2 linked regions of the Homo sapiens genome follow. The protein of the gene in region 1 purifies or fractionates together with the protein of each later gene. This does not show direct contact. Each region holds a gene or a part of one and is shown in the gene's direction. Other genes may lie near its edges.

Evidence for each region.
Region 2: the proteins of ATP8A1 (region 1) and SLC7A8 fractionate together in Homo sapiens (co-fractionation; one large-scale study listed by BioGRID). This does not show direct contact.

What each region holds. Positions count from the first base shown.
Region 1 is NC_000004.12:42,649,639-42,655,064, reverse strand, and holds part of ATP8A1 (phospholipid-transporting ATPase IA), read left to right. Parts: intron 1-5,426. UniProt on the Homo sapiens protein: Catalytic component of a P4-ATPase flippase complex which catalyzes the hydrolysis of ATP coupled to the transport of aminophospholipids from the outer to the inner leaflet of various membranes and ensures the maintenance of asymmetric distribution of phospholipids.
Region 2 is NC_000014.9:23,142,161-23,145,660, reverse strand, and holds part of SLC7A8 (large neutral amino acids transporter small subunit 2), read left to right. Parts: intron 1-2,456; coding exon 2,457-2,582; intron 2,583-3,500. UniProt on the Homo sapiens protein: Associates with SLC3A2 to form a functional heterodimeric complex that translocates small and large neutral amino acids with broad specificity and a stoichiometry of 1:1.

The sequences.
Region 1 (5,426 bases):
GAGTGAATGACCCTTTCCCCTGAGATTAGTTGATTCCAGTTTATTATAGCTTCAGCATGTGCTTGGGACTGTGGTGAAGACAAATAATGACTCTGTGGGGCTGGCGTTGTGGCTCATTGCCTGCTCTGCCCACACTTTTCTTTCCTAGGAAATATTTCTTTCCTAAAAAATATAGTCCTACCTTTCCTAAGGAATATTCTCCTTTGAGAGAGGCCCTGCTGCCTAGAGGGCCTTGTTCTGAACTGCAGCCTTTTTGGCCTCAGCTGATTGGACTATGGTTGGCTCCTGACCCAGGGTCAACCAATTCTTATGTGACTCAGACACTTGTAACCTTGTGGTTTGGCTCAAAAAGAGTCTCTGTGTTAATCATATCTCTCTTGAAAACATTAAAGTTAGAGATTTAGAGTAAAAGCAGAAGGGAGCAGAGGTGAATAGGCTGGTATGGGAGAGAATGGGTGGCCATAATAAGTCATGGGAATGCTGCTGATAGAAGAAAGCAGAAACTATGAGTGAGTAGAGAGATAGCAAAGAAAATGGAATGGATGGGCAGACACAGATCCTGAGAGAGGGTGGCGAGACCTTGGAGCCTGCCCTCCCGAATTTTATAGCCCTAGTTCCCAAGTAGCATTAAAATAAGCTCTTTTCCCCCCCTTGAAATGACTTGAATGGGTTTCTGTTCCCTTCATCCAGATTGGCCAGATGTATGACTGTCATGCCTGTAAGTTGTTTACAACCAAACTGGGGAGAAAGGACTTAAAGAGGGAATAAATAGTCTAAGAGGGGATGTTGTTAATTAAATATTGTGCATGCTGTGGGGGACGCAGGACCTGTGGAAGATTAGGAATTTAGTACATACTTATTACTGAACATAAGGCCTGCTGAGTGAACATTTCATTGAGGTGTGATTTGAGATGAGCCCTCACACAGTGCTTCTCAAACTCGAAGGTTCATAGGAATCACCTGAGGATCTTGTTAAACGCAGAGTCTGATTCAGGAGGTCTGGAGTGGGGCCAGAGTTACTACATTTCTGACAAGAATGTAATGCTGAAGGATGCTGGCCTGCAGATCACAGTCTGAGCAGCAGGATCCTAAAGGATACTGACATCTATTTCTGTAGTTAGGAGAGTGTTGAAGACAGTCATAACAAGAACAAATGGGGAAAGTGAACATGGCTTATTTCAGAGTTCTTAAGGAAATTGGCCGGGAGCAGAGGGAAACTTGGAAGGAGCAGGCTAAAAGTTTGGATAGGTAGATTACTGCCAGATTACAAAGCATTTTAAATGCCAAGGTGAGTCATTTGGACACAGGACCGAATATTTGAACAGGTTCTTAGAGTTCATTGAATCTAATTTCTTATTTAAGCCTAACTCCAATATATAATATCTAACAGGGCCAGTTGGGGGCCACATCGTTATAAGGGAGGGACATCCTAAAAGTAGTAACTTAGTTAAGTCTGGAAGTGTGTTGGCTGGTTTGGAGGAAAAGGTATGGTAGATAGACTCTTTTGCAAAACAGTCTTAAAATGACAAAAGTCAGAATTAGTATTAGAGTGGAACAGTGAGAATGGGAAGGGAGGAATCAGATTTCTGACTGAATCATTAACTCATTCAGCAGATGTCTACTGAACTTCAACTACTGTTACAGGCACTTGGGATACATCAGTTAACAGAAGAGGAAAAGCATGGCCCTGGAGGTGCTTACTTTCTAGTGAGGCAGGAGACAAAACACACACAAAATATGCTAATTATAGAATTTGTTGTGTGGCAAATGGGGAAAATGAAGAGAAAGCAAAATGTTTAAGGTGGGTGGATGGATTGCAATTTTAAGTAGGTTAGTTAGACTAGCCCTCATTGAAAAGTTGGCATGAAGGAGATAAGGGAGTTGGCCTGGTGGGGATCTGGGGGAAGGGTGTTCCAGCCAGAGCAAATGCCCCAAGGCAGGAGAGAATCGGGAATTAGGAACGGTGAGGGGAAGAATAGTAGGAAATGAGGTCACAAAGGTCATTGTGTTAGTCCGCTCTTAGGCTGCTAATAAAAACATACCCAAGACTGGGTAATTTATAAAGACAAAGAGGTTTAATGGACTCAGTTTCACATCGGGAATTAGGAACGGTGAGGGGAAGAATAGTAGGAAATGAGGTCACAAAGGTCATTGTGTTAGTCCGCTCTTAGGCTGCTAATAAAAACATACCCAAGACTGGGTAATTTATAAAGAAAAAGAGGTTTAATGGACTCAGTTTCACATGGCTGGGGAGGCCTCACAGTCATGGCGGAAAGTGAAGGAGGAGCAAAGGCAAAAGAGCGTGTGCAGGGGAACTGCTCTTTATAAAACTATCAGATCTCGTGAGACTTATTCACTGTCATGAGAACAGCACGGGAAAGACCTGCCCCCATGATTCAGTTACCTCCCACCAGGTCTCTTCCACAACACTTGGGGATTATGGGAGCAACAATTTAAGATGAGATTTGGGTGGGGACACAGCCAAATCATAGCAATCATATTATAGGACTTTGCTATTTAGTGAATATTTAGTAAACATAGGGCAGGAGAGAGAAGGACTTTTTTGAAAAAAGCAAGTCTCAACAATAATTTAGAATTCTAATATTAATAAGTTACCATGGATCTTATTGGTAATAGCATATTGATATTTTATTAGTAATAACATTGGTAGTAGGTTCATAAATTATCAGGGATCTTATTGGGCTGGCTTGTGAAGATTTAGTTGAGTAAATCTGTGGTGGGCTTGGGGATTCGCATTCTTAATGAGCCTCCCAAGATACCCTGGTGCTGGTGAAACACATTTTGAGGAAATTTCCATTACAGTCTTGAGCTTGACTGGTTGAGAAAATCTATTAAACAACAAGGAAATTGGGAAGGAGGACTAATAAAATAAGAGATGATACTAATTCAAATTTTGAGGTAACGGGGACATCCAAATGGACATGTTTTAAAGGTAGTTGGAAATTTTTAGGTGAGATGTGGGAAACCTCAAACTTGGGAATCTTGAGAGACAATAGTTGAAACCCTGATAGTGGAAAAATTTGCCATAAGGCAAGAGTAGATAAAGCAGAAGACTAAGAATTTTAGGTCTCTTTATTTAGCTGCCCCAGATAAATCAAATGGGTGTTTGAACTTAGCATTTGAAATCTGGAAACAGACTGAAATAATGGTAGCTTACACAAAATAGTTTTTCTCACTCCTGTAAAACTAGTGTGGAGGTAGACAGGGTTGGCTGTGCCTGCTACACAAAGTCATAAGGGATGTTGGCTCCTTGTGCCTTTCTGCTTCACTGTCCTGAGAGTTTGTCTTCCATAAAGTCACAGCATGGTTGCTGGGGTGCCAGCCATCATGTACAATAGTTTTAGCCAGGAGAAAATGGAAGGGTGAAAGGCAAACAGGTTTTTCAGAAAGCACCACACAAAAACTAATGCTTATTTTGCATTGGTTTCCACTTGCAGGGCAAGCTGGGAAATGGAAATTTCCAGCTGGACACATTACCCAGTGTTGTGTTACAAACGGAAAAGGGTGTATGGTTATTGAGCAGTGCATTAGTCCATTTTCACACTGCTGATAAAGACATACCCGAGACTACTCAGCTTGGAATTCATTGTATCATTATCAGCATTTTGGGTCAAAGCCATTCAACAAGTCTCTAGGGAGTTCCATACTTTCCCACATTTTCCTGCTTTCTGGGCCCTCCAAACTTTTTTCAACCTCTGCCTGTTACCCAGTTCCAAAGTCATTTCCACATTTTCAGTATCTTTTCAGCAGCACCCCACTCTTCTGGTACCAATGTACTGTATTAGTCTGTTTTCATGCTCCTGATGAAGACGTACCGAGACTGGGCAATTTACAAAAGAAAGAGGTTTAATGGACTTACATGGCTGGGGAGGTCTCACAATCATGGCAGAAGGCAAGGAGGAGCAAGTCAGATCTTACATGGATGGCAGCAGGCAGAGAGAGCTTGTGCAGGGGAACTTCCATTTATAAAACTATCAGATCTTGTGAGACTTATTCACTATCACAAGAACAGCATGGGAAAGACCTGTCCCCATGATTCAGTTTCCTCCTACTGGGTTCCTCTACGACATGTGAGAATTGTGGGATTTACAATTCAAGATGAGATTTGGGTGGGGACACAGCCAAACTATATCAGGCAGACAACAGAATCAGTCACAGTGAAGTTCTCAGATTGCCAAAGGCTCTTGCTTGGATAACATAGAAACTGCTCTGGAGCTCATACTTTACATATAATAAGGATTAAATTGTTCAGAACTAAAGAAATGCACACACACAAAAACTTCACATACCTATCCAGTGGTTTGTGTTTTCTTCTGTTGAATACTATAATGCTAAAATATAATGACATTTATTTGATTATGTAAAATATGTGCTAAACGATGTATCCAGAAGTTGTTTTAGGAATTGTTTTTCTAAATGGCAACTCTAAAATGTTTGTAACTATGTAGAATAGTATGTTTTATTTACATAAAAGGTAACAAAAGGAATAAAAAGTAATTTAAGCTGTCCTTAAAGGAAAAATTTTAGGACGCTATTCCAGGTAAAAGATGACTAAGGTTTTTGTTCCTTTAAAAACCACTTATTATGCACCAGCTGTGTGCCAGCTAAATGGGTGGTGGGACAAAAGGCTGTGGTCGATGAAGGAGGTCCCAAAGGAAACATGGAGATGAGTATGGAGATGAGTTCAGTTTTACCTGAAGTGGCACTGTGTGAGAAGGTGTGTATGAGTATAGCGATACAGCATGTCATCAATATTTGAAAATCTCAAAGTAGGTGTCATTTTACTTAGTGTAATTCTGGAGATATAAGTGTATTAGATCTGATTATTTTAGGTTTTCTATCTTCAGTGCAGAATTCATGGTTTGTTTTTTCTGTCATTTCAAAAACAGAATTGAAGCATATACCTAATGTTACAGCTGTGGGAATGTTTGCAAAGGTCAGAGGACACTTTTGAAGTTAACGAAATGTTTGCTGCGTGGGTCTCTATTCACATGGTTTCATTGGAATGTCAATGACATGAAGGCCACCACTTTCCCCTTCATTCTTTACTTCTTAGCGAAAGGAGCCCAAACCTTCCAATGATTGTATTCTCCGGGTAGTAAGCTCCCTAAGGGCAGGGGGTTTTGTCTGGTTTGTCCACTGATATATTGCTCCCCATGAGGACATTGCCTGGCACATAGTAGGCATTGGTTAAATGAATGAATCTATGTCCTAAAGATGAAAATGCCTTATAATCCAATTTGTAAAATACTCAGAGCTAAATCTAGATGTACTAAATCTAGTACCCTCCTACTGAAACCTTAGCACCCCAAAGGAGCGTTTTTGTGAGATTTGTTCGCTGCTGTACCCTCTACACCTAGAGTTTTGTCTGCCACATAGCCACCACTCTATATTTGTTGAATGAA
Region 2 (3,500 bases), on another chromosome or scaffold:
TTCATTTATTAAATACTTGCTGAGCATCTACTATTTGCAGGCGCCAATGATAAGTCCTGAGATTTAAAAACATGAAAACATTTACTTGCCCTTGGTGTCTTAAAAAAAAAAAAATTTTTTTTTCTTTTTTTTTTGAGATGTGGTCTAGCTCTGTCACCCACGCTGGAGAACACTGGCACAATCTCGGCTCACTGCAACCTCCGCCTCCCGGGTACAAGTGATTTTCCTGCCTCAGCCTCCTGAGTAGCTGGGATTACAGGCGCGCCACCACCACGCCCAGCTAATTTTTGTATTTTTGGTAGAGACGGGTTTCACTGTGTTAGCCAGACTGGTCTCGAACTCCTGACCTCATGATCTGCCCACCTTGACCTCCCAAAGTGCTGGGATTACAAGCGTGAGCCACCATGCCCGGCCAGAAGCAGGTCATTTTAATACAAAGAAATGCATCCCGGCCGGGCGGTGGCTCCTGCCTGTAATCCCAGCACTTTGGGAGGCTGAGGATCATGAGATCAGGAGATCGAGACCATTCTGGCTAACACGGTGAAACCCTGTCTTTACTAAAAATACAAAAAATTAGCTGGGTGTGGTGGCGGGCGCCTGTAGTCCCAGCTGAGGCAGGAGAATGGCGTGAACCCAGGAGGCAGAGCTTGCAGTGAGCCGAGATCGCGCCACTGCACTCCAGCCTGAGCGACAGAGTGAGACTCCGTCTCAGAAAAAAAAAAAAAAAGAAAAAGAAAAAAGAAATACATCCCAACATTAGATATAAACAAAGTGGTCTGGGATTGTTCTAGAGAGAAGGAACAAACTTTGTTCCTCGTCTACAAAACACAGCTGATATATCTTCCCTTGCAGGCATGTTGTTAGGAATAAATAACATGCTGAATTATAGAGATTCACAGAACAGGTGACATTTAAGCTGGATCTTGAAAGAGGAGAAGGGGTTTGCCAGGTGGAGATGGCGCACAAAGGAAGGTTACAGACGGTTAATGTCAGGACCATCCTACCCTAACCAAATGTTCTCAGCATCAAATAAGGTTGGGAAATACTTGGAAAGTAGAAGTACCATATAAGAATACGGTACTGATAAAACTTGATCAGCCATTCAAGTGAAGTCAGAGCGACCACACCACCCAGCTTATTTTTAAAATTTTTTGTAGAGAATTACAACTCCCCATGCCACCAAAGAAGATTTGTAAATGGATGGTAAATAAGCACATGAAGAGTTGCTCAACATCATTAGCCATTAGGGAAATGCAAATCAAAACCATAATGAAATACAACTACATGCCTATTAGCCAAAAAAAAAAAAAAAAAAAAAATTGTGTTTAAACTGACAATACCAAATGCTGGGAAAGATACAGAGCAACAGGAACTCTGACATGAGAGTAGGAATGCAAAATGAGACAGCCACTGTGGAAGACAGTTTGGCAGTTTCTTAGAAAGTTAAACACATTTACTCTATGGCCCAGGATCTCATTCCTGGGGATTTACTCAAGAGCAATGAAAACCCCACTCAAAGATCTCTACAATCCACAAAAAGAAAAAAGACATCTACACAAGTATTTATCACAACTCTATTCATAATAGTCCCACACTGTGAGCAACCCAAATGTCTATGGAAAAACAAACAGATACCTTTATATCATAGAATGCTATTTGGCAATAGAAAGGAACAAATTGTAATATATGCAACAACATGAGTAGATCTCGAAAGCATTCTGTGAAGTGAAAGAAGCCAAACACAGAAGACCACATATTATATGATTCCATTTATGTGACATTTTGAAAAAGACAAAGCTATAGGGACAGAAGTCAAAGTAATGGTTGTAGAGGTAGGGGAAGAAGATTTGCCTAACTGACTACAAAGGAGCATGATGCAAAAGGAAACTTTTTAGAGTGTTGGGAATGTTCTATATATGAAGTGCTGAAGTGATTAAGCCATTAAATGCATTTGTCAAATCTCATCAAACTGTACACTTTAAAAAGGTGAGTTTTAGTAAGATGTAGATTATATCTCAATAAACCTAAGTAACATAAGATTCCCCTAAGCCTCTGTTACCCCAAAATCAGGCTCAGGAAGGTGGCTTCCTGACTCCCACCAGCTGCTCACAGCTTCTCTTGCACAAATAATAACTTGAAGACAAAGCCCATACTTGTGCCCTGATCAGATGTGATTTTACCCCCAAAGCCAGTGCCTACACTTCCATGCCTACTTCTGGCTTCCAGCCCTCAGCAGGGCATGCTGGGCCCAAGCTCTAATTTGGGACATATAATCCCCATTTGCAACCCATTAACCTAGCCAAAGTCTCTGGTCCCTGGGGTTGAGCTTGCTGGATGTCTGGCTCACCTACTACAATGTCATCGTCAGGATGAGGGAGCAGTTCTGCTTGTGTGCCTTGGGCATCATGCAGCCAGATACAGCCCCTGAAGGTCTGTTTGGGGGTCTTTCATTTCAGTGCTCCTCACATGGGTCAACTGTTCCAGTGTGCGGTGGGCCACCCGGGTTCAAGACATCTTCACAGCTGGGAAGCTCCTGGCCTTGGCCCTGATTATCATCATGGGGATTGTACAGATATGCAAAGGTGAGTATCGCAGGAAAAACAGGTACTGCCCAGCTTTCCTCCCCTTGCATGTACACACCCTCTCAGCCCAGCTTTGGAAGTATGCCACACCCTGAGATTTCCCCAATTCTAGCCTTGAGTGACTTCTCTTCTTCTTCCCTTGCTTGACAAAAGGGAAGGAGAAACCATTTTCCCCGAGGTGGCTGGGAGTAGGGAATGCTCCCTTTAGGCTGCAAAGGTCACCTCTCCCATGCTTACCTCAAGGCTGTAGCACAGCTAGGTAAAGACCCCACATATCGGCCGAGTGTGGTGGCTCACACCTGTAATCCCAGCACTTAGGAAGGATGAGGCAGGAGGATCACTTGAGCCCAGGAGTTTGAGACTAGCCTGAACAGCACAGCGAGATCCCATCTCTACAAAAAAATTTAAAAATTAATGGGGCATGGTGGTGCATGGCTGTGGTCTCACTTACTCTGGAGGCTAAGGTGGGAGGATCACCTGAGCCCAGGAGTTTGAGGCTGTAGTGAGCTATGATTGTGCCACTGCACTCCAGCCTGGGCGACTGAGCAAGACCTTGTCTCAAAAACAAATAAACAAACAAAAACCCCAGATCTCTAGATTCCTATTGTCTTTTTGCCCCAACCCCAGGGAAGCTCCCTGCATCTTCTGTTGAATCTTGTCCACATCTTAAAGTGGAGGACAGAGAAAGGTATTTTATGTTTCAAAATTACTTATAATCTCTGAGAGAGAGAGCTCTGCATTCCCGGGGCCCCTGCCAACATTCCCCACTGGATTTGGCCCTTTCCAAGCCTGAGGCTATATTTGGTTTCCATGGGACCCATGGCACCATGAGGCTCTGCCCAGCGTCACTGCCTCACGGAGAAAGTCAGGTGACAAACAGGGAAATTTCCCACAAGCCCTGAAGGCAGTGTGGGCAGC